Regions from separate parts of the Homo sapiens genome. Here all the other regions are reported to be linked to region 6. The links are microRNA targets in miRTarBase. Many come from high-throughput screens and were not tested one by one. Region 6 holds a microRNA gene; each other region holds the end of a gene's coding sequence.
Evidence for each region. The annotated mature microRNA hsa-miR-149-3p reads AGGGAGGGACGGGGGCUGUGC and lies in region 6 at 3,179-3,199, shown strand. An mRNA with a match to its seed (bases 2 to 7 or 8) in the 3' UTR can be bound and repressed. Matches are read on the target gene's strand: a 7mer-m8 pairs with bases 2 to 8, a 7mer-A1 pairs with bases 2 to 7 and ends in A, and an 8mer does both.

Region 1 (5,071 bases), not on the chromosome of region 6:
TTTTTTAATTTTTATTTATTTTTTTGAACTGGAGTCTCGCTCTGTCGCCCAGGCTGGAGTGCAGTGGTGCGATCTCAGCTCACTGCAACCTCTGTCTCCCGGGTTCAAGTGATTCTCCTGCCTCAGCCTCCTGAGTAGCTGGGATTACAGACCTGGCGGGTTTTTTTTTTTGGTATTTTTAGTAGAGACGGGGTTTCACCATGTTGATCAGGCTGGTCTCGAACTCCTGACCTCAGGTGATCCACCCGCCTCAGCCTCCCGAAGTGCTGGAATTACAGGCTCGAGCCACCGCACCCAGCTGATGCCTAGTAATTTTTTATTTTCCACTTTGGCTACTGGGAAAAGGAATTATTCCTGGACGTTTTTGAGCTCTGTGGATTCTTCCCTCTAATCCTTTAAGGTAATTGTTTTTCCCTGGCTTCAGGTAGTTTTCACACACGCACGTGTTGATGAATATTTAGCTGAACTTAAAGGAAGATCCTCTGGAGATTTCCGTGCAGTTCTCTCCTCTTCAGTGTTTTGCCTTGTCAACTCGGGCCACTTTGGCCTCATCAGACTCCTCATTCTATCTAAACACTAGGAGACCACCAGGCTCTGCCTGAGTTACTCCTCCCAGCAGTAATCTGGAAAAACTAGGAAAAATTTATTTCTGTTTTTTTCAGGGATCACTGTTCTTCATTGGAAATTGACATTTTAGTATATTCAATGTCTTAAAAACCATTGTTTCACCTATTTCGTTTAGCTTTTTAGTATTTACAGATATAAGGGTAAATCTGGTCTGTTTCTCCATTTGATCAGAAGCAGACATCTGTTCATTCTGTTACTGGTGACTTTCAGTTAACAGAATAATAAAATTAATATGAATATGCCACACTTTTCTAGTTAAAATGTTTTGTCTAGGAAATATTCTTTACTGTGAGGTTATAAAATGATTCTCAGATAAAAACAAGGTAAAATCAAAGGTGACTACTTTCCAACCTTGCTCTCTCCCACCTATAGTTTGTATTTTAATTTTTCTTAAGAGACAGGGGTTTTGCTATGTTGCCCAGGTTGGACTTGAACTCCTATGCTCGAGGGATCCTCCTACCATGTCCTCCCAAGTAGCTGGGATTACAGGCGTGCACCACCACACCCTGCTCCCACCTATTATTTCATCATTTTGATTAGGTCTTGGCTTATCCTTCCACTGTTTTTGAAAGTATAAACATAGCTGGGTGCGGTGGTTCACGCCTGTAATCCCAGCACTTTGGGAGGCTGAGGCGGGCAGATCACGAGGTCAAGAGATCGAGATCATCCTGGCCAACATGGGGAAACCCCATCTCTACTAAAAATACAAAAACTAGCTGGGCATGGTGGCGCATGCCTGTAGTCCCAGCCTCTCGGGAGGCTGAGGCAGGAGAATCTCTTGAACCCGGGAGGCGGAGGTTGCAGTGAGCCAAGATTGTGCAAGCGCACTCCAGCCTGGCAACAGAGTGAAACTCCATCTCAGTGTACTTGTCACCTTAAAAAAGATCTAGTCAACATGAATGAAAATGGCTTATTACAATACAGTTACATAACAAAAAATTATTTTTCACACAAATTGTGAAATTCCATAGATGACAATAATTTAGGAGGGAACTACCTGTTAAAGGTGTGACTTACAAAATGTGCTAAATATGTGTACATATAGTCACCATTTCTTAACTCATGTAACACTAAAAGATACCAAGAACTTCACTTAGAAGAAATTGATAAAGTAACTTTTCATCATTCAGAATTACCCATCCAGGCTGGTCACGGTGGCTCACACCTGTAATCCTGGCACTTTGGGAGGCTGAGGTGGGCGGATCACCTGAGGTCGGGAGCTCGAGACCAGCCTGGCCAACATGGTGAAACCCCATCTCTATTGAAAATACAAAAATTAGCCAGGCATGGTGGAGGGTGCCTGTAATCCCAGGTACTCGGGAGGCTGATGCAGGAGAATCATTTGAACCTGGCAGGCAGAGATTGTAATGAGCCAAGATCACCCCACTGCACTCCAGCCTGGGCAACTAGAGTGAGACTCCACCTCAAAAATAAAAATTATCCATCCTGCTCAGAGCTTAAACATTATAAGCAAATATCTACTATATTATTCTTTGATTAAATATTGGGTTCATCTATGTAAGTTTTTTTCATGTATCTTCATGAGTGAAATTTTTCTGGAATTTGATGTTCAAGAGCTATCCCATCTACTTTTATTATAAAAATGTTAGTCTTTTAGCATGCCCTGGCAAATTTTCCATAGGATTTTCTATTCTTCAGGGTGTAGCCTGTACAGTTTTCTAGTCTTACATGTTTGTTTTGTTTTGTTTTAGACAGGGTCTTGCTCCATCACCGACTGCAGTGCAGTGGGGTGATCACAGCTTACTGCAGCCTCAAACTCCTGGGCCCAAGCAGTCCTCTCACCTCAGCCTCCTGAGTAGCTGGGACCAGAGGCATGTGCCACCACACCTGGCTAATTTATTTTTTGCAGAGATGGGGGTCTCCCTATGTTGTCCAGGCAAGTCTGGAACTCCTGGTTCAAGTGATACTCCTGTCTCAACCTCCCAGAGTGTTTGGATTACAGGCATGAGCCACTGTGCTCAACCTCATCTTACATGATACTTTTTTCTATTTTTTGAACTTTTTGGGTTGTTTTTGAAACTTAATCATATTTAATAATGTTTTCCTAGAAAAAAACCGTACACATATAAAAATCATGTCTAACAGAGTTCACATACTTAATACTAAAAAATATCTCCAAACATATAGTTATATTCCATTTCTCCTTATAATATAGTAGAGGCACTGACAAAGTCTAATGAATAATAGTTTTCTTCAAAGGACTAGATTTTGATGAAAAACCTGTATGGTTTTTTATTCCATGATTTCAGCTTTTCATTAAGCCTTTCCATTCATTCATTTGGGGTATTTGTTCTTATTCTACCTTGCTGTGTAATCATTATTTAACTCAATAAATATTTGAGGCCCTACAACATTATAGGCACTGTCCTAAGTGCTGTGGATACAGTGCTGTGGATACAGTGATGAAGAGAAACAAACTGCCCTCAGTCTTCTTGGTTTTATACACAGAGCAATTTCTATTGATAACTGTTTTAGTTATTTCACAGGATTTAAAATATAGGTCTCATTATCATTCTAAATACTCTGTAATTTCACTTTTTATTTGCTCTTTAATCTAAGAATGGTTTATATATAGTAGTAAATTTCAAAGAGGTAAGAATCCATATGGCTATCCATTTGCTAGTTTCTGAGTTATAACTGTGGTAAAGAATTATATAACACTTGGCTTTAGAAATTTGTTAGAGAGAAGTTATTTCTGAATGTCTTTTAAAAAACTGCTGAACACTCAACAACCCCACTTTTACTAAAGTCATAAGGCTTTCTTTTATAGGTTTTTTTGATGTAGCATGTGAAATTAATATTCAAAGCTTTCTTCATTGTATTTTACTGATTTTTTTTCAGAATTAACATTCTGATGTTCAGTAAGACATAAATAGAGATGACATATTTGTCTATAATCATTATAGTCTTAAAAGTCCTCCTCTCATAAAATGGCTTAATACCAATACAAATGACAGTCACTAAGTCATGTAAATCTCAAATCATTCAACCCTTATAATCTAATGAATACGATTAAACAGACATAGATTTAAGATACTTTCCAAAAAAAAAAAATAGAGGCAGGATGTATTGAAACAAGACATGCCAAATAAATTGTATGACATAGTTCAAGGCTTTTCTAGATTAATTACATGATTTTTGTGGAAATACAACAGAATTTTGCTAATGATGAAAGATTTCCAAAATGAATTATATATAAATTCTTGTGGGTTTTTGTTTTTGAGATGGAGTCTTGTTCTATCACCCAGGCTGGAGTGCAGTGATGTGATCTTGGCTCACTGCAACCTCCACCTCCCAGGTTCAAGGAATTCTCATGCCTCGGCCTCCCGAGTAGCTGGGACTACAGGCGTGTGCTACCACGCCCGGCTAATTTTTGTATATTTAGTAGAGACAGGGTTTCACCATGTTGGTCAGGCTGGTCTCGAACCCCTGACCTCAGGTGATCCACCCACCTCTGTTTCCCAAAGTGCTAGGATAACAGGTGTGAGCCACCATGCTTGGCCAAATTATATATAAATTCTTTATGCAACATCTCTGATGAGAATGTTTTGAGAATGATTCAAAAAGAATTCATGCTATCTCATAAAATTTTACCCTGATATTCTGCAATTGATAACTGATCAGTAATTTCTTTCCTATATTGATTGCATGATGAATTCTCTGCTGCTGCTGCTGCTGCTGCTGCTGGATGTGTGCTCTGTTAAAATGCCTTCCAATATTACTTACATTTGTGGTGTTCCTCAAGAGAAAAAAATAAATGACATCAATTAATGAGTCATGAATAAAGCCCTTCCTACACTTTTATATAATATTTCACAAGAGTGAAATGAAGTGAGAGCTTGAAGAAAATGCTTTCTCAAAATCTTTAAATTCATAGGATTTCTCAAAAGTGTAAATATTCTGGTGTTGAGCAAAGTTTGACTCATGACTAAAGGTGTTCCCATAGTCTGTCCATTCACAGAGATTTGCACTATTATGAATTTTTTGTTCAGTAAAATATGAATGGTGACTAAAGATGTGGCTACTTTTCTTGCATCCATAAGGTTCTGCATCAGTATGAATTTTCTTATGTCGTGTAAGCTGTGAACCCCAGATAAAAGATTTCCCACATTCTTTACATACGTAAGGTTCCTCACCAGTATGCATTCTCTGATGTCGAGTAAGTTGTGAACCCCAGAGAAAGGCTTTTCCACATTCTTCACATTCATATGGCCTCTTTCCAGTATGAATTTTCTGGTGTCGATTAAGTTCTGAACCACGAAAAAAGGTCTTTCCACATTCCTTACATTCATAGTTTCTCTCACCAGTATGAATTTTCTGATGTCGATTAAACTCTGAGCCATGAAGAAAGGTCTTTCCACATTCCTTACATTCATAGGATTTCCTCTCATTGTGAATTTTCTCATGTTGAGCAAGATACGAA
Region 2 (5,071 bases), not on the chromosome of region 6:
TCGAAGTCCTGGGCTCAAGCGACCCGCTCACCTTGGCCTCCCAAAGTGCTGGGATTACAGGTGTGAGCCCCTCACTGCTCCTGGCTCCCTCATTATTATATTTCCTGAAGTTGACATGATTTGGGTCCTTTACTTAGAAATTGTCATCACACAATTTCAGAAAGGTAAAGAAATCCATTTTTATTGGCAACTTTGGGCTATGCTTCATCCTGGCAAAAATTTAAAAGCAGTACACTTCGACGTGGCTCACTTTCCTGCACACCTCAGGCAGCTTGTACAGACTATCCAAGAAAAAATGAGGAGGAAAGTGCTCCATCAAGGAAGAGGGATGAGATGGGAGCATAATTCACACACTAAGAACTGAGTTCTAAAGTCACTTGAGCTTTCTGGAGCTCAGTTACCTGTAAAACAAGGAAGAATGAATGGTCTTTATGGAAAATGAATGGCAGAATAAGTGATTTGTCAAGTTCATTGAACTATAAATTCCATTTTTACTGTCATTTATTTATAACAAAGTTCAGATATAAAGAAAAATCTGAACATACAGTAGGCACAGATAAACCTATAGCAAATATTCACATGTGGTTTGAATGCATTTATTAATCTCTGTACTTATTAGAATTAATAATAATACTAAAATGATTTGGAGAATTAATGATTAATAACAGTGGAAAATAGCCTTCCCATTATTGTTAGAGGATGGTGCCATCATGATGCTAAATGCCTATCTGAGGGGAAGCTCATAAATATTACTTGACAATATTACTTGATAAATATTTGTTGAAAAAAGAAATGTAGTAAAGAAGCAAGGATGGCTGGGCATGGTGGAGCATGGCTGTGGTCCCAGCTAACTTGGGATGCTGAGGTGGGAGGATTGTTTGAGGGAAGCTGAGTTTGCAGTGAGCCAAGATTGCACTACTGCACTGCAGCCTGGGTGACAGAGTGAGACCCTCTCCAAAAAAAGAAAAAAAAAAAGAGAAAAAAAAGAAGCAGCAGCAACGAAAGGAGGGAGGAAGGGAGAAAGTTTACTTTGATATGCCATATGATTGAAACAAATGCTCTTTTTTCAAAGACAAGGATTATACTCCTTTGCATTCCAGCTACTTTGGTCCATTGTAACTTGGTAACCTTTGCCTTGAAAACAAAAAGAATCCCTGGATATAATCTCCTTCCTTGTAATTTTTTTTATAAGATGCCAGTATGGTAATAGGTCCATTAGCAAGTAAGTACAGGCACATCTTATTTTATTATACTTCTCAGATACTGCATTTTTTACAAATTGAAGGTTTGTGGCAACCCTGCATCAAGGAAGTCTGTTGACATCATTTTTGCAATAGTATGTACTCACTTTATGTCTCTGTGTCACATTTTGGTAATTCTTGCCATATTTCACACTGTTTCATTATTATCTCTGTTATTAAAATCTGTAGTCAACGATCTTTGATGTTGCTATTATAATTACTGGGGGCACCATGAACCACACTTATATAACACAGTAAACTTAATAAATGTGTGTATGTTCTGATTGCTCCAACAACCAACCTTTCTCCAATCTTTCTCCTTCTTCTCAGGCCTCCTTAGTCCCTGAGACACAATATTGAAAGTAGATCAATTAATAACCCTAAAATAGCCTCCAGGTATTTCAAGTGAGAGGAAGTTGCAATCTTTCACTTTAAATCAAAAGCTAGAAATGAATAAGCTTAGTGAGGAAGGTGTGTCAAAAGCTGAGACAGGCTGAAAGCTAAGCCTCTTATGCCAAACAACCAAGTTGTAAATGCAAAGGAAAAGTTCTTGAAGGAAATTAAAAGTGCTACTTTGTGAATGCATGAATGATAAAAAAGTAAAACAGCCTTACTGCTGATATGGAGAAACTTTGAGTCATCTGAATAGAAGATCAAGCCAGCCACAAAATTCCCTTAAGCCAAAGCCTAGTTCAGAGCAAGGCCCTAACTCTCTTCAATTCTATGAAAGCTAAAGGGAGGTGAGGAAGCTTCAGAAAAAAAGTTTGAAGGTAGCAGAGTCTGGTTCATGAGTTTGAAGAAAAGAAGCCTTGTGCATCCATAAAAGTGCAAAGTAAAGCAGCAAATGTTGATGTAGAAGCTGCAGTAAGTTATCCAGAAGATCTAGTTAAGATAATTAATGAAAGTGGCTACACTAAACAATAGATTTTCAAAAGAGATGAAACAGCCTTATATTGGAAGAAGATGCCATCTCAGACTTACGTATCTAGAGAGGAGTAGTCAATGCCTCACTTCAAAGCTTCAACCAACAGGCTTACTCCTTGTTAGAAGTTAACGCAGCTGGTGATTTTAAGTTGAAATCAATGCTCATTTACCATTTCCCCAAATCCTACGACTTTTCAGAATTATGCTAAATCTAATCTGCCTGTGCTCTATAAATGGAGCAACAAAGCCTGAATGACAGCATGTCTATGGACAGCATGGTTTACTGGACATTTTAAGCTCACTTTTTGAGTCTTACTGCTCAGAAAAAAAAAGAATCTTTTAAAAATATTGCTGTTCGGGCCGGGCGCAGTGGCTCATGCCTGTAATCCCAGCACTTTGGGAGGCCGAGGCCAAAGTCAGTAGTTCGAGACCACCCTGACTAACATGGTGAAACCCCATCTCTACTAAAAATACAAAAATAAGCTGGGTGTAGTGGTGGGCGCCTGTAAATCCAGCTACTCAGGGGTCTGAGGCAGGAGAATCACTTGAACCCCGGAGGCAGAGGTTGCAGTGAGCCAAGATCGCACCACTGCACTCCAGCCTGGGTGACAGAGCGAGACTCCATCTCGAAAAAAATATATATATATATAATATATATTATATATTTTATATATGTATATAAAATATATATATAAATGATCAGTTCCAGACCACTATAATATATATATATATAGCTGTTCACTGACAATATACCCAGTCACCCAAGAACTTGGATAGAGATATACAAGGAGATTAATATTTTCGTGCCTGCTAACACAATACCTATTGTGCAGCACAGGAATCAAGGAGTCATTTGCACTTTTCGTAAGACTATAACTGTCACAGATTGTGATCCCGCTAATGGATCTGGGCAAAGCAAATTAAAAACCTGGAAAGGATTCACCATTCTAGATGCTGTTAAGAACATCGTGATTCATGGGAGAAGGTCAAAATAGGAAGATCAATGAGTTCGGAAACTGATTCCATCCCTCATGGATGATTTTAAGAGGCCCAAGACTTCATTGGAGGAAGCTCTGCTATAGACATAGTGGAAATAGCAAGAGAACTGGAATTAGAAGTGGAGCCTGAAGATGTGACTGAATTGCTGCAATCTCATTACAAAAGTTTAATAGATGAAGACTTGCTTCTTATGAATGAACGAAGAAAGTGATTTCTTGAGATGGAATCTACTCGCGTAAGTTGCTATGTACATTATTGAAATGACAACAAAGGATTTACAACATTACATAAATTTCATTAATAAAGCAGCAACAGGGTTTGAGAGGATTGGCTCCAATTTCAAAAGAAGTTGTACTACTGGTAAAATGCTATCATACAGCATCACATGCTGCAGAGAAATCTTTCATGAAGAAAAAGTCAATCGAAGTGGCAAACTTCATTGCTGTCTTATTTTAAGAAATTGCCACCATCACCCCCAACCTTCAGTAACCACCACCCTGATCATTCAGCAGCCATCAACATCAATGCAAAAAGATTATGATCATTAGCAATTTTTAGCAATAAAGTATTTTTAAAATAAAACATGTACATTTTTTGGACATAAAGCTATTATACACTTAATAGACTACTAAAGAGTGTAAACATAACTTTTATATGCACTGAGAAACCAAAAATTTTGTGTGACTCACTTTATTGCGATATCCACTTTATTATGGTGGTCTGGAACTGATCCTGTAATATCTCCATGGTATGCCTGTGCTGTACAGGGGGTAAAGTGTGAGGGGTCAAGAATTTTCATGCCAGAAATTCCATAGCAGCCTACTAGAACTCTGGAAGTATCGCCTTTGGCTGCAGTGCCAGATTCTGGTGAGGATTTCCTGGACCCCGATTTATATCTGAAAAAACACTAAAAATAACAGAAGCAGGGCAGGAAGTGGCTATGATAACAAAGCTGGGCTTGGTACTTTCTCTGGCTTTTGTGGCCAATATTACTGGACTCCCGTGGTATCAAGTTTCATAAAAGAAACTCATACAAAGCAGAGATATCTTAATTATTTTCAGACTGGCATTTCAAAAAGTGTCAATTTAAGTAAGTATTATAAGTTATTTGTTCTTTGTTTTATCTTTTCAGATGTTTCTTGAAAACATTGTGGTGTGATCTTTAACAGAGTTTTCACTTACCAATTAATACAAAAAATAAGAAAAAGCTTTAAATACATATTTTATAAAATTTTATATGCCAAATAAGGTCCTTCATATAAGAAAAGGAAAATAATATCAATTTTCAGTACTATTATTTAGCACTAGAGCCCCTCCAGTTAGAAAAACAATTCTTTTAAATGTCTTTATGATTTGAGGTTTCAATAATAACTCATGAATAGGTGAAAGTTTGCTATTTATTTAGTCTTAGAAAAACACTGAAAGAAAAAGGCAGGAAATGTAGTACGCAGTGTGGAAGAATGGAGCTGGCCACATGTAGTTTTAGCAGCTGCAGAGGAAACTGGCTGAGTCTAAGGTTACATATTTCTGCTCAGTAAGGGTATCCATGGTGATAACTCTCATGATGACGGTAGTCATCCTGGTAACCATCCTGGTATCCTTGGTGGTAACTATGGTAACCATAGCCTGCATACTCATCTTCTGGGCAGCGCATCCCCAGTGACTGCTGAATCGCCATTTCCTGTCTCCGAAGTTGCATCGAATCAATTAAATCGTACACAATCACCATGGACCACATTGGGGAAGGATACCAGGATTTGACATTTCCGTCTTTTCCGACTAGAAGCATGGAGAAGTACTCCGGGCTCACTTGAAAATAGTTACGAATGTCTTTCACCAAATGGGCTGGTACGTCTTCTCGCTCAACAACAGAGCTCCCTAGAATAACATTGGAATAGTTATTGTTA
Region 3 (5,071 bases), not on the chromosome of region 6:
ACCCAGCTACGTTCACCACACCCTCCTCTAGCTGGAACAGCATCTCTGGCTCCCAGGCACTGTTCTGCTTTAAAACTTCATCAGGCAAGAGCAGCCAAGGTGAGAATCCCTGCTTATAGCCATCTCTCACTAGCTGTGTACCTCAAGCCACTGTCTTTCCGCTGCTGAGCCTCAGTCTCCTCATCTGAAAAACGAGGTGAAGATTCTTTTAAGTTCAGGGGTACAAGTGCAGGTTTGTTACATGGGTAAACTTGTGTCATGGAGGTGTGTTGTACAGATTATTTCATCATCCAGGTATTAAGTCTAGTAATGGGGTGAAGATTCTAATGACCTCATGGAACTGTTGTGAAGTGTAAGTGGGATGATACAGGATCCCATGGGCTGGGCATAGCCCGTGACAGATGTGAGCAGGTCAGCCTGGGTTTTCCAGTCACTCTAAGCACCACCAGGCTGCTAGCCACATTCGGTGAGGAACCCTAAGCCAATACGTGCAGCAGAGGCCAGCCGATGACCTGACAGGGGATAAGTCCCACCTTCTGGGCAACTTTTACGAGTCTTCTGTGTAAGTACTGTGTGCTAACCGATTGCGCTGCTGGAGCTGCAGCCTTATGAGTTTTCTAAATCACAAGAAGTTCATCACCTAGTGGGGCTTTTTTATCTGCCTTTCCTCACTGCTTAAAGACCAAGCCCACATCTTTCCTTCTCCTGTCTGCTGTCGGAGCATAAGTGTGTGCCACACGTGACCAGGTGTGGCAGAGTCAGAGCAGGGGGTGGCTTCTGTGGAAGTAGGAGTGAAAGTGTGGAAACAAGTGAGTGCGTGTGTTGACAGGCATCTGCATTTGTGTTAGTTGTGCTTACTCAGAGGTCCACAGGCTTGTGGCAGATTTCAGAAGCTGGTCCTTCTTCAGCAGCTCTCTCGGAGGCACACCTCCCTGATCTGCATCTATGCGGAGTTACCCAGCACAAGGACACCAGGGTCGCTGTGTCACCACCAGAGGCACAGGTAGGGGGATAAGATTGGATGGTGGGGGAAAGGCCTGGGCCTTATCCGCCAGCCCTGCCACTGGCCTCCAGGACTTAGCCTCGGTTTCTCAAACTGTGTCAGGGACGAGTAAATGGGATGAGCAGCCCTTGGCAAGGAGTGGGCGCTAGGAAATCATCAGTGAAGGAGGGAGTGAATGAATGCAGGCCTGTGTGGCGACTGCTTCAGCATGGCAGACAAGGTGACGTATCAGAGCCTTGAGGGTGGGAGCTCCCCAGGTTGGGAAGGGACAGACACGTGGGCCAATCCTCTGGACAGGAATAGAGAACGAGGAGGAAACAAGCGCAGAAGCTGGAGCGGGTGGAGAAGAGCAGGGGAGACGGTTCGCAGCAGGAGAAAAGAAGCGAGGAGTCACAGGGAGGGGCCTCCTGGACACCGCTCCCAAAGCCACGCGAAAGTGGAAGCGCGGGGCCTCGGGATGCCCATCCAGCCGGCTGCCCGCGCGCTGGCCGGGGTTCCAGGACTCCTTCCTGCTCCGCCGGGCTCTGCAGCGCCGCCTGGTGGACACGCGGCGCTCCGCCCGGGCTCCAGCCGCCAGCCGGCGCGCCGGGGATCCCGCGGCTGTTCGGGAAAAAGCTGGAGAGAGTCGGGGGGCGCGCCTTGGGGAGGGGCATTTGTCCCTCCGAGGAGGCTCGCACCTCGGCCTGGACACGCAGCAGATACTGGCACCCACCCTTCACTTACCGCGCGCCCGGGGTGACTCGGATCCGTCCAACACGTCGGGGAATCCTTTCTGTCCTCACCCCCGGGCGCCCCAGCGCCGGAACGCTGCTGCCTCTGTGTAGCTGCTCCCGGAAGGAGTTTCATCAAACTTTTAAGGGGCTTTGGTTTTGGGTTGTGTTGATAAAATACCAAGAAGGGGCATGAAGGCACGAACGTCCCGGGTTCGTCTCCCTGCTGGTCCCAAGCCTGAATCCCAGGGCGGGGGAATGTCTAGGTCCTTCCGGGCCGGCAAGGTGTGGTCGCTCAGGGACCCCTGTCCGAAGACGCTAGGGAAAAGAGGCACAGCCTGTGGGTCGCAGTGGCCAGGAGCGCGTGGCCGCTGCTGGTGAGAGAGTGGTAGACGCCTGGCTTTCAGGTCCTGAGCTGCGGGCACCGGAGCGTGGGACCCCGGCTGCAGCACCGCCACGCGCTCCCGCCCTCCCACCTGCAGGGCGGGGGATGTCTGTCCAAGAGGCCGGGGCGACAAGCCCGCCGGCCAGGATTCTCAAGGAACCAGGCCCAGCTCAGCCTCTCTCGGCGGGACCAGAGTGGGACCGGGGCCGCGGCGTCCGAAGACGCTGCGGGCCAGGGGTCCTCCTCGGCGCCAGCTCCGTTTCCTGGGGTCTCGCGACGTCCGGACATCAGGGTCGGGGGTGTGGAGACGGCGGCGGAGCCAGAGTCCCCACCAAGTCAGTTCCAGGAGGCGGCCCGCGCGCTTCCCGCAGTGTCCGGGAGGTCGCTGGGGGTGGCTTTGCGTGCAACCCGGGTAAAGGCCCTGCAGCCGTGAGGCTGGCGCTGGGAGGAGGGTGGAAAATCTCAAAGTCACCAATCCCGGTGCAAATGGCGGCAGGGGCCGCGGGCTGTCGGACGCAGGCGAGAGGCCAAAGGCTGACTTCGCGCGGCCGTGAGTCCCCAGAGGCAACAGGGGTACCTGAGCGCCGAGGGGATCCCGAGACTCGGAGAAACCGGAAGAGCCTGACCCCAGGGAGCGGAGAGTTTGGGGTGCGCTCTCAGAGCTGTGACTCCACGGTCCCGGAATCCTTGGAAAGGGCGCTCTGGGCTCAGAGCTCCCAACTAGCCGGAGGACCTGGGCTAGCGCCCAGGCCTGGAGCGTCTGGGAGGGGGCGCTGGGTCTCGGCCCCCCTCCCCCCAAAAGGGACTGAGACTTTTTTCTGCGTGCTTCCTTCGGCGCTTCGGGCAGCTCTGTCCTGCGGCCCAAGCTGGGGAGAAGACAGCGGCCCGCGCCACAGGGAGCTGCGCCCGGACCCAGACTCCCGCCGCGCTTCTGCAGAGCGGAGCCCTAGGTGCCCACCTGGTAGCCCCAGAAAGGCCGGACCTGGGCGCCGGGACGCTCGCGGGGCCGCACTTGGAGGGGCTTTCCGGGTCCTGGCCGGGCGGGCTCTCCTGCGGCGCGGAATGGAATAGAGCGCCGGCTGCAGAGCCACCCGGACGGGGAAAAGCAGCGGTGGCGCCGGCCAGCCCCGGGTCCCGACTCTGGAGGGAGGAAGGAGCGGGCGGGTGGGGGTGGGGGTGAGGGCGAGGGTTGCGGGGAGCGTTTAGAAGGCCCTGGGCAGCCAGAAGAAGAAAAGAGGACGCACTCTCCCCTAGGGACCAGAGGGTCCCTGCGTACTCCCCCCAGGCCCGGGACACAGGTTCCCCCAGCGCCCCTCCGCCTCCCAGTCTATTCGGCTTGCCCCAGCGCGCTGCCCCACGTCCCCGAGGCCCCGGCCCAGGCCCAGCCGGCGAGTCCCGGCCTGCTCCACTCTGCACAAAACGAAACCCAAATGCCCAAAAAGCTCAGGAGGGAAATTTAACAAAAACCCTGTCCCCCGCCCCACACCCCCTTTCACTTTTAACAAGCCAGCTGCCAAGAGAAAATTGAAATAAAAACGAAATGATAGATAGCGGAGGACACTATTTTCCAAATGGTGAAATATCCTCTAAAAATATGTTCCCCAAGGCCAACTTCGCGGCTGGTAGCCCCTTCCGACGCCTTTGCCTCCCAGAAAATCACAACAAAGCGATCGGAAATTCAGCCACGGTCCCGGGAAGAAGGAGTAGCAGTGAGGCCCCGGAACCCACTGCGGCCGAAACTGCCATGCTCTCTTTAACCAAAATAAAAAAGATAAGAAGAAGAAGTAAAACCCTTTAATACATCAAATATACGGAATTTTAATCTTTAAAGCGATACATTGTCTATTATTTTAGTACATGACGTAAACCTTGTCCCCTTCTCAGCGGGTGGACTTAAAAATTAAAAATAGTTAAGTGTTCCTTTTAAAGAACAAAATAAGGCAAATGAGGTTTTGGAATAGAATTTTTTCTTTTTCTTTTTTTTTTTGTTGTTTTCTTCCAGAATACATACAAAAAAATACCCATTCTCTTCGATGGTATACACCTTAAAAATAATTGCAATTTGAAATCAGAGCTGACAAATTGTGACTTTTTTTTTCATTTTTTTTGTAACAAACATGCATGTAAATTTGTGTTTCAATCAGACATTAAATAACGTACAATACAATCATAGCAATTTTAAAGTAACATTAAAGAGAAGACCTCTAGTTCTGTGGCGGTTTTGCTTTTATTTATAATCTACAAGGGATGGGAGGGTTTGTTTTCCACATTTTTACCCTCAAGTTTTAAAATTTTTCCCACCTCCTTTTTACCTACAGAGCTCAAACTAAATAATGCACTTTTGAACCACCGGTCCGCTTGGAGCTAACATAAATAAATACCAGTGTCCACCGATGCAGTCCTCAGATGAACACTTTCTCAATTATTTTTTCCTTTTTTTTTCTATAAAAAGTCAAATGATATTTTTTCAACTTTTATAAAGTTTGGGTGGGGAGGTGAAAGTGGGGAGAAGGGGAGTGTCCCACCGGGTCTCGGTCGCTGCTGTCGGGTAGATAGATACGGTATACATTTCTTTCCTTTCGTGGCCCGAGTCCTCCCCACGCGCGGGTGTCAGCAGCCTGGGCCGTGATCCCGCCTCTCCCTGGACTCCTCCCCTCCCCCTCTCCCTCCTCTCCCTCGCTCGCCCTCCCGGCCGCCCTCACTGATACCCCAGCGCCGAGGCGGTGGTCAGTCTCTGTCCGTAGAGGGCGTAGGGGGAGTAGTACGGTCCGGTGGCGGCGGGCACCGGCACGGGGGCGCCAGGCGTGGGAAGCGGGCTCTTGGAGTAGGGGTGGTAGCGGCTGCTGAGTCCCAGCGCGTGGTGGGGGCTGCGCAGCGCCAGCGTCCCAGGGCTGCCCGGTGCGCCCGAGGTGGGGATGTGCATGTGGCAAGCCATGGCGGCCGCGGCAGCGCTGGCCAGAGACGACGAGCTGG
Region 4 (5,071 bases), not on the chromosome of region 6:
ACCTGATATTGGTATTGGTTTGTTCATTGAACCAACATGTTCATGAGCTTATTTGCTAAGCATTCATTCTTTCCACGGACATTTCTTGAGTGCCTGTAGTGACCTACACACTGGGCCGGGGGTAGGGAGACACCTGTGACCAGGCAGACATGGTCCTTGACCTCAGAGTGACAGTTGACTTGACAGAAGATCAAGAGTGTCTGTGTGTGATCTGCAAGTGTGCTAGGCCTGGGAGCTCTGTGCCAGCTGCCTAAAAAAGAACCCGTCCCTGCCCTCTGGGGGTGGACAGCCTAGTCAGGGGATAGACACATAAAACGAAGTGTTCTAAAAGCTATGGCAGGAATGACAGCCAGCTCTAGGGGGTGCAGGGCAGGAACGCCAAGACGTGTATCAAGCTGTGAATGCTAACAGCTGTTCTTCCCCCACAGCATGGACAAGGACAGCCCGGAGGTCCACCAGGACCTGAACGCCCTCAAAAGCAAGTTCCAGGAGATGCGCAAGCTCATCAGCACCATGCCCGGCATCCACCTGAGCCCCGAACAGCAGCAGCAGCAGCTGCAGAGCCTCCGGGAGCAAGTCAGGACCAAGAATGAGCTTCTGCAAAAGTACAAGAGCCTCTGCATGTTCGAAATCCCCAAGGAGTAGAGTGAGGCTGACTTCCTTAGAAAGAGGGGGAAGCCAATGGCCTGTCTCCCCACTACCATCCCCAAACGCTCCTTGGGGCGTGGTTCCTGTGGACCCCAGCTCAGCTCGTCAAGCTGCAGGGGCGGGGCTCCTGTGCTGCTGCGCGCGCTTCGCCTGTGCGGGAGCCAGCGCAGAGCTTGGCTGCGCCGGGGGTTCCTCGTGTAGATCCATATGTCTAGATGCATAATAACTGGAGTGCCTGCTGGTGGAAGTCAGAATGCTCCTGGAGGCTGCAGAGGGGGTGGAGGACTCTCCCCTGCCTCTGGGGAGGGGGCCATCTGCTGCGCCCGGCCCCACTGACAGATCTGAAGAGCACAGTAGGAAGGGAGGCGGCTCCTCTTTGCTTCCTTCCCTCTCTCTCCTCCCACCCCCATAGGATCAGTGTGTACCAGGTACACATTGTTCCTGTTAACAGCAGCTTCTTGAAACATTTGCATAGAATTCACTGGACGAATTAAGCCTGCACTCATATGGCATAGAATTGTGAGAGAATGTTTTGAAAGGCCAGAGGGTGGCCTTTTTCCCCAAACAGTTTGGTTCCTTTTATGTTTGAGCCAGTGAAGGGAACTACGCTTTGGGGGCTTCAGCCTAGAGCCCTGCCAGGCAGCCCCTGGCTCCAGGTTCCCTGCCTCCTAGCGCTCTCCTCGCCTTCAGCTCTTGCTCCCTTCCTCGTTCATCACCCTCAGTCAGTGCCCAAGAGTGGCCAAACCGCTTCACATCTGCAGTGCTTCCCCAGGGTTGACAAGGGGCCGTCCTTTCCACACAGGCCAGAAGAGGTCTTCAGGCGAACCGACCTTCCCCCTTCTGGCATTTCAGATTCCCCTTGCTCTGGTTAAAAGGTCTTTCCCTCGTGGCCTTTGCACTTGCGGCAGCAACGTGTACTACACTGCAGAAGGGTTCAGTATGCACCTTGTGTTGAGAGAGAGGCAACCCTGGGGGCCAGTTCAGGTGGTCCCCAACCATAAGCTAGGTCTGAAAGTTACACAGCCAAGTTTGAGCTCTTAAAAGTTGATGAACAGCCTCATTTCCCCAGCTTCCCTGATTTCTTCCAGATGGGACGTTTTATTTGTGTGCTCTCCCTTGACTGTCAGATTGAAGTAAGAGCAGTTCTCTCCGTTGCCTCTCGAGGAGGAGGTGCGAAGTCCTGGAGTATTGTTTGGGTCTCGGAATGGGCGCATAACCTGCGCTGACCAGTTTAGGGGCTTAGCAGATGCCTGCCAGCTGACCTCGTTGGCAGGAGGGTTGGGTGGAGATGTTTTTAGCAGAGCTTCCATTAGTGTAGACCTGTAGCCACCTGTCAGAAGGTGGGTGGCATATTGGGGACCTGGGAATGTGTGAAGGAGGAGATCAAATTTCAGTGGCTTTGGACAGAAAAGAAGGCTCTGGATTTAAGCGGGTGGTCACCTGTGAGACCAGGTCTACCTTGGGACTGTTATTTAACTGAATCAGTTATTTCCTTGAAATTTCACAGTAGTGGGTGGGCCTGTTTTAAGGCTCTGACAGATACCACGAAACATGAAGCACGTGGAACTACAAGACCCCCGGGGTCTTTCTGAGTGCAAGGCTGAAATGGACAAGGGCTCCTCACGGGGGTGGAGGGAGCCGGAGCCTGCCTTGTGTTCCTTTTTTGACTTGTGACATTTTTCAAACACATAATTAAAAGGACTTATGCTCTGCTGTCTCAGGACATAATGCTTTTTGTACTGAGAAATTCATAGTGGGATGGCTCTCAGATAGTTGAGAGGAAAATGTTTCTCTCAGTCTCTTCAGACACAACCACACCTCTGCTCCTCACTCCCTCCGCCCCAGCACACACACCCGCCCCAGCACACACACCCGCTGAACCAGTGTGGAACAGGAACTCCTCTCCCGGCTGGCCTCAAGGGCAGTTTGCCTGGCGGGTCATCCCTGGGCTGTCCTTAGTTGCCTTTTATTTTTGGAGGGGGGAGGTGGGGGGTGCCTTTTGGTGACTCGAGGAGGTTCAGTCCTGTGGGGAGCCGCCCTCACCAGAGCAGGGTTGAAATCCTTCTAGGACAATTTTGAGTGTCTCTCACAGGGCTGAGCGTCCTCTGAAAGCCACCAATTACTTGGATTACTGGGTGGCCGGCATTTATGCTAAGTACTTTTCAAACATCACACTTAATCCCCACAGTGAGCCCATGCCGAGGGTGTTCTCTCTTCCCGGGGTGAAGAATTAGAGGCTTGGCAGGTGTCACCCACCAACAGGTTTGCAGTACTAGTGGCAGAGAGATTGGTGTTCTGGGGTGCCTTAGCCATGAGACGGAGACAGCAAGGCTGAAGGGGGATGGGGCTCTACACCTGGCCAGGAGCACTTCCTGGAGCTAGAGGGGAGCAGAGGCTGAGGAGTTAGCTGTTTCCAGACAGGGTGGCACCCTGGAGTGAGCGGGTGGTGGGGGCGCGCCAGGATGGTCCTGTTTCCAGATGGGGTCTCAGGCTCTTTCCCCAGGGCCTGACTGATGCCTCCAACAGTCCGAAAGTTTGCCTGGGCCCACACTGAGTCTGGTGACAAAATGGTTAGGCACAGTTCCAGTGGCTTTTACGCTGAAGAATTCAGAACATTCTCTCAGAAAATGAGGCCTTTTGTCATCTAACCCAAAGAAAATTAAGCGGGTGGATGGCTAGAAAGAGTTCATCTCCAGGGGGGACCCTGAAATCCTTTATATTCTTCCCGGTTTTCTAGGGAACCATCCCCTACATAGATGCCCCAGGCATCTGGGGCTTTTCTGGCAGCTGAAGCTGCCTTCAGAAGGCCAGGGTTATTTTCCAGTTCTGGGGAAGGTAAGTTCTAGTTCCACCTAAGTCAAAGCCCAGCCCTTTCCTTCTCCCCACCCTTCCCCACTCCAGCCATCTCTAAAAGCAAAAAAAAAAAAAAAAAAACCGGTTTTCCATTTTAAATTATTTTATTGTATATTAAAAAACCAAATAAAGCAATAACTTTAAAGACCTCAGACACACACAGTATAAACACCTGGGTAAGGTTTTGTTCGTGTCCATGTTGACACCGGAACTACCGTTAAAGTGCAAGTTTTGTTTTGTGTTCCTTTGTGCAGTTTCACTCACATGTAAACAAGTCACTTGGCTATGATTTGACCCACGCCCCCCCGCTTAGTTTTGGGAGGGCAGAGGCTCTACCGGCTGTCACAGCAACCCGGAATCACAGACAAGATAATGCCCCGTGGGTCCTGACCCTCAAGCGGGCATGACGGTTTCTTGAAGCCTAGCAGAGGCTGGATAACTTCACATCCCTCCCCCACCCCGCGCTCACTCTTAGGTCTTTGAGAAGATAAATCCACCCTCGGCTGGGCCCTCGCTCCCAAAGTTATGGGGGTGGCGGGCCTCAATGGGGGACCGGGGGTGGGGAATAGTCCCAGTCTTGGCCCGTTCTCTTTCCTTCCGGAGCAGATGACCGTCCCTTCTCGGTTCAGTGGCGCCTCCCCAGTGCTGGGGGCGGATCGCCGGGAGGGGAGACGCCAGTCCGCGCGCGCTCCCGGCCTGGGGCGCACCGGGCCGTTGGATTTGACTTAACAAAAAGGTCCTCCTTAGGTTGTGTCGCCAGCGCGGCGGGGCTCCTAGCTGATGACGCAGCGCTCCTTGTCCTTGGCCTGGCTGCCGGCGCTGGCCTTCTCGCGGATGTACATGAGGTCGCTGTGTACGCTGGGCCGGCGCGCGAAGGGTGCCACGATGCCAAAGGCGTCGCCCGGGTCGCCGCCGCCGCCGCCGCTGCCGGCCCGCAGCAGCTTCTTGTTCCGCAGCGCCTTCTTGTGCAGCACGTCGCAGTACTGCACCGAGACCTTGCGGTGCAGGTCTGGGCTCATCTCGCTGGGCAGCTTGGCCATGGCGAAGAGCGCGCGGAACATCTGGTCCAGGCTGCTGTTCTTCTTGGCCGAGATCTCGAAGTAGGCGCAGCGCTGGGGGTCGTCGCCCACCAGCTGCTCGATCTCGCGCTGGTCCACCTCGCGGTAGAAGTCGCGGTCACCCTTGTTGCCGCAGATGACCAGGGGCACGTCCACGTTCTCCTTGGTTTTGTTCTTGAGGCAAGACTTGGTGTCGAGGATCTGCTGCCTGAGCCGCTGCACCTCCTCGAAGGAGTCGCGGTTGTCCAGACTGAACACCAGGATGAAAACGTCTCCTAGAGGGGGCACAGAGAGCAGAAAAGGAGAAGGTGAGGGTGGCCGCCCAGGGGACAAGTCGGGCTGACTTTGAGGCCGCGCGGGGCGCGCTAGCCTCTCTAAGCGCGAAGCGCACTACTCGGCGCGCGGCAGCCGGACCGGCGCTCGCGGGGCGCCCTGGCCGAGGGTTCCCCGCCCTTCCCTCCCGCACCTGCCCGGCCCCCGGCTCACCTGTGAGGATGGAGAGGCGCCGCATG
Region 5 (5,068 bases), not on the chromosome of region 6:
ATCATAAAGCCCACATGTGAAGAGCCCATAGCTAACATCATATTCAATAGTGAAAGACTGCAAGCTTTTCCTCTAAGATCAGGAAAAAGGCAAGATGTCTGTTTTTGCCACTTCTACTCAACATAGTTTTGGAAGTCCTAGTCAGAGCAACTAGGCAAGAAAGAAATAAAAGGCATTCAAATTAGAAAGGAGAAGTAAAATGATCGATTCACAGATGATATAATCTTAGATGTAGGAAACCCTAAAGACTACACACACACACACACACACACACACACACACACACACACACAAACTGTTAGAACTAATAAATGAATTCAGCAAAGTTGCAGGATACAAAAAGCAACATACCAAAATCAGTTGCTTCTCTATACACTAAAAATGAACAATCCTAAATGGAATTTCAAAAAATTCCATATATAAAAGCATCAAAAAGAATAAAATACTTAGAAATAGGCCTAACTAAGGTGAAAGACTACACTGAAAACTACAAAACACTGTTAAAAAGAAATTAAAGAAGACACAAACAAATGGAAAAAACATCCTATGTTCATGGAGTGGAAGGTTCATATTGTTAAGATGTTCATACTACCCAAAGTGATTCACAGATTCAACACAATCCCTATAAAAATCCCAATAGCATTTCTTGCAGAAATAGAAAAATTTATCCTAAAATTCATATGGAATCTCAACAGACACCAAATAGACTAAAGTCTTGAAAAAGAAGAGCAAAGTTGAAAGACTCATACCTCCTGATTTCAAAACATATTGCAAAGCTGTGGTAATCAGAATAGCATGGTAATGACATAAAGACAGACATAGAGCAATGAGAGGATAGAACACCAAGAAACAAACTCTTGTGTATATGGTCAAATGATTTTCAACAAAGATGCCAAGATCTCTTGATGTTAGAAAAGGACAATTTCTTCAGAAAACAGTGCTGGGAAAACTGGATATTCACAGGCAAGAGAATGAAGTTGGACCCTTATCTTATACCATACACAAAAATTAATTCAATATGGGTTAAAGACCTAAACGTAAGACCCAAAACTATAACACTCCTAGAAGAAAACATGGGGAAAAAAGCTACGTGATATTGAACTTGGCAATGATTTCTTGGATATGATGCCAAAATAAAAGCAAAAATAGAGAAATGGGCCTGCATTAAACTTTAAAACTCTGTGCATCAAAGGTCACAATCAGTGAAAAGGCAATGTACAGAACTGAAGAAAATATCTGCAAATTACGTATCTGATAAGGGGTTAATGTCCAGAATATATAAAGAACTCCTACATCTCCACAACAATAAATTAAATAACCTGATTTAAAGATAGGCAAAGGACTTGAATAGACATTTCTCCAAAGAAGGTATACAGGTGGCCAACAAGCCCATGAAAACATGCTCAACATGGATAAACAAAATGTGGCATGAAAATACAAGAGTATTACTGTAGTCCAGCCTTAAAAAGGACAGAAATCCAGTCACGTGCCACAACCTTAAGGTCATTATACTAACTGAAATAAGCCCGCCACAAAAAGACAAAAACTGCATGATTTCACTTATACGAGGTATCTAAAGCAGTCAAATTCATAGAAACAGAAAGTAGAATTGTGGTCACCAGGGGCTGGAGGAAGGGGGAAATGGAGCCTTGTTGCTCAATGGGTATATAGATTTGCAAGATGAAAAAGTTCTACAGATCAATTAGATCAATTTCACAACAATGTGAATATACCTAACACTGTTGAACTATTCACTTAAAAATGGTTAAGATCAACAACAACAAAAAGAACAAAAAAAATGGTTAAGATAGTAATTTTTTTGCCACAATAAAAAATATAGTTGAGATAATCAGGAAAAACTAAACACTAACTCTTCACACAGTTAACTGCATTTGAATTCTGTACTCATTTGTGACAGATACAGCTACTTAATACTCAGAGAGTGGAAAGAACACTTCTTTAAAGAGGTCAAAAATCTGGCTACTAGCCCCAAATCTCCTAACTAGCTATTAGATGATATTCAAGAATCACTGTTAATTTCATTGGATATGATAATGACACTATAGCTATGCTTTTTGAAAAAGGATTCATACTGAAGTAATTTTGGGGTAACATTATGTTTTCTATGATTTACCTTAATATACTCCAGCCAAAAAATAAAGAGTACAGGTGGGGCAGGGGTAGCTGAGAAAGGATGGCAGAGTGGTCTCGTCATGCTTGTTAAAGCTGGGAGAGAGGTACATGTACGAAAAGTTTAAAACAAACCAAACAAAACACGAGGGGAAGAAAAGCATGGATGGGTATTTGGAAGGAATGGCAGCAGGATCAATTTATTGAGATTTTGTGACAGCATCATATACTACAGACACTATTGCTGATTTTCAAAAAGCATTGCATTTCAATTTGCATCTAACAGATTAAAAATAAAGAAACAAATGAAATTGAAAGAATGATCAAGCTTCAAGTAACGTTTCTCACCACCTCCCCCGGCCACAAACAAACAAAAAGGTCCATGGTTTAAGAATGTTGAACAAAGGGACTAAAGGTGTCATGGAGACCTGCCCACCAGGGCCAGAATCTGGACAGTGATGGAGAAATTTCTGCTGCAAAAATGTCCGCCGCGTCAGGGAATACAAACCACATACGAGAGGGTGTTGATGTTGTTTCTCAGATACATAGGATGGACCTGTTTTCTTTCTGCTAATAGAAAGCAATCAGTCAAGCAAGGACTTCAGAGTGGATGAAGGGTACATAAGACCACACAATGATGGCATTCAAGAGAAAGAAAAGAGGTAAGGATGCAAAATTAAAAAAAAAATAGGACTTAATGAAAGCTAATTTCATCAAGCCCAGGTCACTGATGAGAAAGATGTAAAATCAAGAAACCAGTGAAATAACACGTAACAGGTGAGTCAAACATTACCAGCCGCATCAAACAGTGGAAGTGAAATGGCACCATCTAGCCCACCTGGTGAAATCCAAAGCGAGAACTTAAAGGGAGTAAGGATGATTCACAAAATGCGGTCGGGACACAAGAAAAGTGAGTTTGGAAGGACAGTGAAGAGAGAAAAAAGAATAAGGAAACCACCAAAATTTCAACTCAAAGATACATTTTAAACTGCATGGTATGGCCCACTGTCAATACCGTGGCTGCCTGGGAACAAAAAGGGTGGTCTCCAGATCCCCCAGAACCCCACTATACACCAGGAGGACAAGGAGGAAAGGAAGAAACCCCCTTTGCCTGCCAGAATGCACATGAGGGAAGGAAGGCAAACCCCTAGCAGTTGCTGCTTTGACACATCACCTGCCCCAGCAGCAGGCAGCTCGCTACCCACTCACATTCCCCAGGACTGGCTGCTCCATGAATCCTCTGGGCACCTGTGCCCAACAGAGTTCCTTAGCAAGCTCCACTGGAACGTTGAAAAATTAACATTGAGTGTTTACTGTGCACGCTGTGCCATGTGGAACTCATGCACAAGGCTTGATGGATCCCTCCTGACAAAACAATCTTGAGGTAGATACGATAATTATCCCCATTTTAGGGTTGATGGAAACCAAGGCTGAGTGAGGGAAAGTCACCCACCCAACGCTGCCCTATGAGTGAGCAGCAGGGTTAGCCTCTCCAGTCAGAGCGAGTGTCTTCACTCCCCATTGGAGGAAGACTTTCCATCACAAGCCTAAATCACCCAGCAGGAAACCAGCCCAGCCCTGTCTTCTCAGTGAGGCCTTTTCTAACACGGGTGCTTATCTCCATCTCAGGATCAAAGGATCTATTGCTTCTGGCAAAAGGGCAAAAGCACCGCTTTTACTGGGAGGTACAAGACCTGGTTTCTAGCCCCAAATCTCCTACATATCTTGTCATACTGCCTGTGCCCTATCTCTCTTTGCCTTGGTTTCCTTATCTCCAAATAGGGAAAAGCAGCCTGTCCCCAGTGAGCTCCCCGAAGGGTTGTATAAAATGAGACAAGGGAGGCAAAGCCCTCTGAATTCCTAAGCAGCCATGTTCTCACCATCACCGACCATGGCGCCCACCGTTCTTCTCCCCTGACCTTGCCCCCAAAGGCCCAGGAGCACAGACAGTTAAATAGCATCCCTCAAGGCCTGGAACAGGAGGAGCTTTGCATTCCAGTAGATTTTGCTGATGCCCTCAATAGAGGTGATCCTGATAGAATCAGAGGAAAAGAAAATATTCTTCTCTAGCAGCCAGAGGGCCCTTCCATCTTGCCTGTTCTCCCAAATTACCTGGCAACACTACCCCTTCCCCAGAAAGGCTCTGGATCAATGATTCTGGAAACCACTTAAGTCCTAAAGACAATTTTAAAACACCAGGAGAAAAATGCTCCTGCTCCTCCCCGCCCCACCTTCTAGAGGTATGCCTTTCTAGCAACCCCGAGGGGAGGTTCATCCCTGGGAGCTCTGCAGGAGAAGGTCCCCATTCCACATCATCTGGAAAATAGAGGGGAGTGCTAATATATGTGACCTTAGTGATCTCACAAGTGCATCAAAAAAAGCAACTGGCCAAGGAAATAGTTAAACCAGCCTGAACATGCCAGGCAGGCCCACCATAAGTCACTGTTTGAGTCAGGCTTGTGACCAAGGGTGTGTAGGCAAGGATGAGTGGGCAAGGCTGGAGGGGAAAAGCAGGCAAACCACTCTGAAGCAGGATGGAGGGTCGAGGACAAGGGCAGGGCAGAGGTGCACAGGGCAGGGCCAGTTCAGGGAGACCGCTGCAGGATGAGCTCTGTGATCTCGGCCCTGCTACCCAGCCTCATGGGTATCCCGTAGTAGGCTGTGCCTGGGCTGACATACACGAATGTAGCCTGGGCCACCTGGTAGAGACCAGCAAAGAAGGGATTCAGGAGATAGGCTGCTACGTTCAAGGGGAAGATCTGCCCAGCATGTGTGTGCCCAGAAAGGATCAGGTTAATATCTGGCCGAGCCTGGAGAGCTCTCTTGGCAGCCAGGGGCTGGTGAGCTAGCAAGATGATTGTGTGGTCTGGGCTGCAGCCCTCCAGGGCCTTGTCAAGATCCATGCCATGGCCAGAGTAGTGCAGGATGTCTGCTTCAA
Region 6 (5,071 bases):
CGCAGCCCGCCCTCGTCCCCCGCTGGCTTTTCGCCTCCTGCGAGCCCTTCCGCCCGGCCCCGCTCCGCCGCCTTTCCCCGGCCCGAGCACCTGCACCCAGAGCCCGCGCGCCGCCCGGAGCCGCTGGAGCCGCCGCTGCGAAGGGGGTCCCGCGTCCGCCGCCGCGCTGGAAGCCAGGCCCGAGGACCTCTCCCGCAGCGCCACCGTACCCGCATCCGCAGGCGCGCCACCCCCATCTCCACCCGCTCCTCGTCCCCACCGCCTCTGTCCCATCCTCCGCTCCGTCCTGCCCCGCTTGGCCGCCGCAGCCCCATCCCCTTTCCGCCCCTCCTGTCGGGAGTCCGTGGCCCGTCCCCAGTCCCACCCCACCCGTCGCCCCAGCTGCACCTACCCCTACCCCTCCCGGGCCGCATCCCGGCGTCCCCGCCCCGCTCCCACCGCCCGCCCCGCTCCCACCGCCCGCCCCGCTCCCACCGCCCGCCCCGCTCCCTCCGCCCGCCCCGCTCCCTCCGCCCGCCCCGCTCCCTCCGCCCGCCCCGCTCCCTCCGCCCGCCCCGCTCCCTCCGCCCGCCCCGCTCCCGCATCGCCTGCCGCCGCCCCGGGGCCCCCCTTCCTCTTCCGCCAGGCCCATCCCCCTCCCCGGGCCGTCGCAGCCCTTCGAGCCCCCTCCCCCACCCCCGTGCCTGCCGCACCCGCTGCGACAAGCCCCTTCCCCGCCAATCGCGGCGCCCCCCTCCCCTCGCCTGCCCGCCGCAGCCCCCTCTCCCCGCCCGCCCCCTTCCCTCCCCGCCGCGCCCACTGCACCAGTGCCCCCTCCTCGCCGGGCCGCCGGCGCTGCTGCGTGTCCAGACCCCTGCGCACCCGCTCCGGCTGCGCGGTTTGCCGTCTTCGTCCCTGGCCGCGGCGGCTGGCGACTGGCATCGGGGCGCCCGGGACCCCCAGGGCGGCGACGCTGCCGCCGGTGCCGCCGAGCCTTTGTTCCGCCGCCGGGGCCGGTTTCACGCCTGTCGCCCTCGCAAGCAGCCGCGGGTGACAGGAGCCTTAGCCGGCCTGGGGCGCGGACCCTCCCACCCGGGGCAGAGGTGTCCCTACGACGCCCCTCGGTTTCGGGTCGCAGTGCGCGGCGGAGGTTCTGCGGCGGCGGAGGGGCTCCTTGGCGACGCTGTCATTTGGGTGAAATGGTGGCGGGGGGGCTTCGGGCAGACGGCAGGGGTGTGGGGAGGGGAGGGAAGCACGATGGGGTGAGTCTGGGGGCCGTGGATGCCGTTGACGAGGAGCTGAGATGCCGTGGCCGGTCCACCTCGCAGGTGGGGCCAAGGCTGCCTCTGGCTCAGACGTCAGGAGCCCAGGCGGACAGGGACTGGCCAGGGGCGCAGGCTTCTTAGAGGATGGGGCAAAAGTGAGGAAAAGATCCTCTGCAGCCTGGGCAGTGGGTGGTCCCCAGGAAACCCCCTGGGTCGTTTGTCCAGTGCACCCTCACCCCAGGAGGCTGCTGGACGTGCCGGAGGATGCCACAGCCACCGGAGCTGGTTGGGGTCCGAGAGCAGATGGGCCAGGGGCTGGGGCAGGCTTCGAGAAGAGGGTTCGGGCTTGGGGAAAGCCTTCGCAGCCATCGGCCAGCCAGGAAGGCCCCGTTGCCGGGTGCAGAGCTGAGTAGAGGGCAGGAGCGGGGAGGCCTAGGCTCTTCCCTTGCGTGTTGGGGGGCTGCGGTGCCTGGAGCTCTGCACACAGCCCTACTCCAGCACCGTGGGAGGCAATGCAGGCTGACTGTCCACGCCAAATTCCGGTACCTTAGGCATTCGAGTCTGTTGACACTGAGTGTCTAGGACGAGGCTGTAAAGGTGGATAAAGCCGGCTTTACAGTCTGCACCTCCTGTGTGAGCCGTGGAAGCTTCTGGAGGGATGGGCGTGGCGTGGCGCCATCATCTCTCTGCATTCTCCTTGGGAGGGCTCCAGAGCCACTGGTCACGGGCAGCTGCCAGGCTGGGTCTGGACAAATGAGGTCTGGGTCCATCATTGGGGATGGGGGCCACTGTCAGGATGGGAGTCTCGCCTAAAGCTTTGGGGTGAAGGTGCTGATGACCAAGAGGAAACTGCGGGGTGGGGACATGTCAGCAGGGGACGAGAATGCATGACCTAAAAGGTATCCAAAGTTAAGGCTGGTGGGGGCTTAGTGAGGAGCAGCAGAGTGGGGTGGTCCAGAACCGTCAGGATCGGGAGGGGGAAGATGGAACGAGACAGCAGCTGCCTACGAGCCAGGGAGCAAGAGCTCTGTGCTTTAACCTGAGGAGCAGGAGCCTGGGAACTGGAGACTCTGGGTTTGAGGTGGGGGATGAATCTGCCATTAAACAAATAATCCCCTTCCCCCCCAAAAAAATCCTCAGAGCACTGGGGAAGGGAAGTGTCCCAGTGACTGAGGGAGGGGAGCGCTGTGGAAGGATGGGTCGGCTACAGCAACTTCAGCCCAGGGATCAGGGAAGAGAGGGTCCAGTCCCTGGCCCAGCGGGGAGCAGGCCCGGTGACCTTGACCTGAGCAGCCCCAGGGCCAGAGGGAGGGGTGGGCCGGAAGGGCCCAGATGCCTCCCTGCACGGGGGGAAGGGGATGGGCTGCCGGGACTCACCCCCTAGGTTGGAAAATGCCTCCCTCTGGGTTGGAGGAGGAGAAAGGCCAGGAAGGAGAGGGAGAGGGACATGGGGAGGGTTCCCTCCTGGCCTGAGGCCTCTCTATCCCCAGGTGTTGAGCTGAGAGAAGTGGTGGGGAGGCCCCTGGGGGTGGGGAGGCCCCTGGGTGGGGAGATTTAAGATGACAGCTGGTCTTGGGCACATTGCTCTCCATTCAGAAAGGCCCCAGCCCCTGGCATTCTTCCAGGAGGGGGCTTGCTTTGCCGCCCTGCAGGGGGACTCTGCAGAGCCGGCCTCTGCCATCTCATGTCCAGGACCACAACCTGTGGCCCCGGCCTGCGCCGGGCCGGAGCTCCGCAGAAGGAAGCCAGCGGGAGGCCTCCTGCCTTTGACTGCCGTGCGTCCAGCCTGCAGCGGGCCTCAGGGGGCCGCCTCGATCCAGCCTGCCCGAGGCTCCCAGGCCTTCGCCCGCCTTGCGTCCAGCCTGCCGGGGGCTCCCAGGCCGGCGCCCGAGCTCTGGCTCCGTGTCTTCACTCCCGTGCTTGTCCGAGGAGGGAGGGAGGGACGGGGGCTGTGCTGGGGCAGCTGGAACAACGCAGGTCGCCGGGCCGGCTGGGCGAGTTGGCCGGGCGGGGCTGAGGGGTCGGCGGGGGAGGCTGAGGCGCGGGGGCCGGTGCGCGGCCGTGAGGGGGTGTGAGAGGTGGCTGACGGCGCCGAGGAGCCCCTCAGAACCTGCAGGTGGGGGGAGCTCCCATATCTTACGGGTGTTTCGGGCCTCACCTCTCCATGCCTCTCGTCAGCCTCTCCCGTCTGCGTGGTGGGGGCTGGGGAGTGGGTCCGCCGGGACCTCGCGAGGGAGGGGCACAGGAGGAGCCGGCGGGGGACGCCACCCACCCTCCTCCCTAGGAGTGCTTGAGCCCTAGTCCTGAGTCTTGGACCAGCTCACTCGGTTCCTGTGGCCCAGCCAGCCTGGCCTGGGTGCCCCGTCACAGCTGAGCCCATCTCAGCTGAGCCCAGGGTGTGTCACCGGGAAGCTCAGCTGGCACCTGCCACCCCCTCCCCCAGGCACGTTTCCCTCCCACTGCCCAGCCCATTACCATCATGTGTCCGGCTGACCTGTGCTCTCCTGGTCTGGGCAGCCTGGATGGGTGCACAGGGCCCCATCACAGCCCACACCCTCGGAGAGACGCCTCCTGAGTCTGCTCAGCCTGGCACAGGCCCCAGGAAAGGACCCGGAGGGGCGGTTCCTGCTCTAAATCCTGCCCCCACGGGGGTGGGACTGGGGCAGAATCCCATCAGTGAATAAAGGCTGCAGAGTGAAGGATGGTCCCTGGCGAGTGTACCTGTGTCCCAGTCTTCTTGCCTGAGGGCGCCTTCCCACCCATGTGAGGAGTGGGGAAGGAGCACCCCTTCTCTACTAGGCCCCAGGGCTCTCAGAGCCGGGCTCTGTCCTCACCCCAGCTGGCTCCCACAAGGCCCTCCTGGCCCCAGACTCTGTTGGACCCCCAACTCCCCCTCCAGCAGGCATCTGGAGGTAAGGAGGGGCGGGGGGCGCAGGTGCACTTGCCATTCCCGCTCTGTCTGCAGCATGGGCACATGTAAGTCCAGGCCCTGGGGAATCCCTGGACCTGCAGCCCCTGCGGAGGACTCCCTCCCCCTCTAGCTCAAGCCAGAGCCCCCTGCATCAGTACATTCCAGAACTCAGACAGGAAAAGAGGGCAAGGAGGGAGCGCTCCAGGATAAGAACCCCTACCTCGGCCCTCCCTCGCTCTCCCAGGCCCCTCTGACAACCTGTCTCCTTGCTGTCATGTCAGCAGGCACAGAGGCTACAGGGGCCAAGCGGCAGCCGCCCAAGCCCGGATTCGGGTTCTCTGTTCCCTTCTCTTGTCTCGGGCTCCTCCCTGAGTGTGTGTACTTAGAGGGTGCGGAAGATCAGCAAACTCAGTCTGACCCAGGCATTCAACCTCTGGGTAGTTACCTAGTCCTGGGTCCCCACCCCAGATGGCCTCTAGTGGGTAAGGGCTTCCTGGACCCCAGGCCTGAGGGGTGACTTCTCTTGCAGTAAGCGGGTAGGGCACTGCCTGCGCTGCTCCAGGCCCTGCCTGCAGTGGGGCTACAGATCCCTGCTCCCACCTCCAGGCAGGGCTGGAGCTGCTGCCAGCTCCCCCAGGACAGCCTCGAGCCAGGTGCCTCTGCCCGGGCTGACCCCGCCCTCGGTCCCGGTCCTGGCTCCCTCTCCTGCCTCTCCTCCCTGGCCTGGCCTTCACTTCCTGCTGACCCTCAGGAGGGCGTAAAAGAATGCAGGACCTGCTGCATTCCAGCCACCCTGGCCCAGGGTCCCAGAACAGGATGAGACAGGCCCCTGAGGCGGCAGTCCTGAGGAAAGTTGCTGGAATTCCTGCTGACAACGCCCCCCCTTGACCCCACCCCTCTGACCAAGCCAGGCTCC

Region 1: miRTarBase lists ZNF790 as a target of hsa-miR-149-3p. The part of its 3' UTR that is shown has no 7-base or 8-base seed match.
Region 2: the mRNA of CCDC80 is a reported target of hsa-miR-149-3p. Seed matches in the 3' UTR shown: 7mer-A1 at 2,563-2,569 and 7mer-A1 at 867-873.
Region 3: the mRNA of ZNF503 is a reported target of hsa-miR-149-3p. Seed matches in the 3' UTR shown: 8mer at 4,347-4,354.
Region 4: the mRNA of RASD1 is a reported target of hsa-miR-149-3p. Seed matches in the 3' UTR shown: 7mer-m8 at 4,163-4,169 and 8mer at 3,818-3,825.
Region 5: miRTarBase lists TMPPE as a target of hsa-miR-149-3p. Seed matches in the 3' UTR shown: 7mer-A1 at 3,810-3,816.

The regions. Positions count from the first base shown.
Region 1 is chr19:36,813,972-36,819,042 of GRCh38, forward strand. ZNF790 (zinc finger protein 790) reads right to left here. Exons shown (of 5, transcript NM_206894.4): 5 at 3,457-5,071. The coding sequence ends at 4,462. All of the region lies in intron 3 of ZNF790-AS1 (ZNF790 antisense RNA 1), which reads left to right. Among named protein-coding and RNA genes, the nearest start is that of ZNF790-AS1, 19 kb to the left of the region's middle.
Region 2 is chr3:112,600,722-112,605,792 of GRCh38, forward strand. It overlaps CCDC80 (coiled-coil domain containing 80), which reads right to left. Exons shown (of 8, transcript NM_199511.3): 8 at 1-5,042. The coding sequence ends at 4,696. Among named protein-coding and RNA genes, the nearest start is that of CCDC80, 38 kb to the right of the region's middle. RefSeq lists an enhancer at 3,167-3,336.
Region 3 is chr10:75,393,953-75,399,023 of GRCh38, forward strand. ZNF503 (zinc finger protein 503) reads right to left here. Exons shown (of 2, transcript NM_032772.6): 2 at 3,878-5,071. The coding sequence ends at 4,797. LOC124902461 reads left to right here. Exons shown (of 1, transcript XM_047426122.1): 1 at 1-4,305. The coding sequence starts at 2,204. The coding sequence ends at 3,169. Among named protein-coding and RNA genes, the nearest start is that of ZNF503-AS2, 5.0 kb to the right of the region's middle.
Region 4 is chr17:17,490,851-17,495,921 of GRCh38, forward strand. It overlaps RASD1 (ras related dexamethasone induced 1), which reads right to left. Exons shown (of 2, transcript NM_016084.5): 1 at 5,046-5,071; 2 at 3,587-4,834. The coding sequence ends at 4,275. MED9 (mediator complex subunit 9) reads left to right here. Exons shown (of 2, transcript NM_018019.3): 2 at 429-2,371. The coding sequence ends at 645. Among named protein-coding and RNA genes, the nearest start is that of RASD1, 3.0 kb to the right of the region's middle.
Region 5 is chr3:33,088,119-33,093,186 of GRCh38, forward strand. It overlaps TMPPE (transmembrane protein with metallophosphoesterase domain), which reads right to left. Exons shown (of 2, transcript NM_001039770.3): 2 at 2,304-5,068. The coding sequence ends at 4,716. The region is part of intron 1 of GLB1 (galactosidase beta 1); the gene reads right to left. Among named protein-coding and RNA genes, the nearest start is that of GLB1, 6.5 kb to the right of the region's middle.
Region 6 is chr2:240,452,878-240,457,948 of GRCh38, forward strand. MIR149 (microRNA 149) reads left to right here and starts at 3,124; the gene lies at 3,124-3,212. The region is part of intron 1 of GPC1 (glypican 1); the gene reads left to right. It overlaps GPC1-AS1 (GPC1 antisense RNA 1), which reads right to left and starts at 3,823. Exons shown (of 3, transcript NR_161169.1): 1 at 3,720-3,823. RefSeq lists enhancers at 2,424-3,074, 5,027-5,071.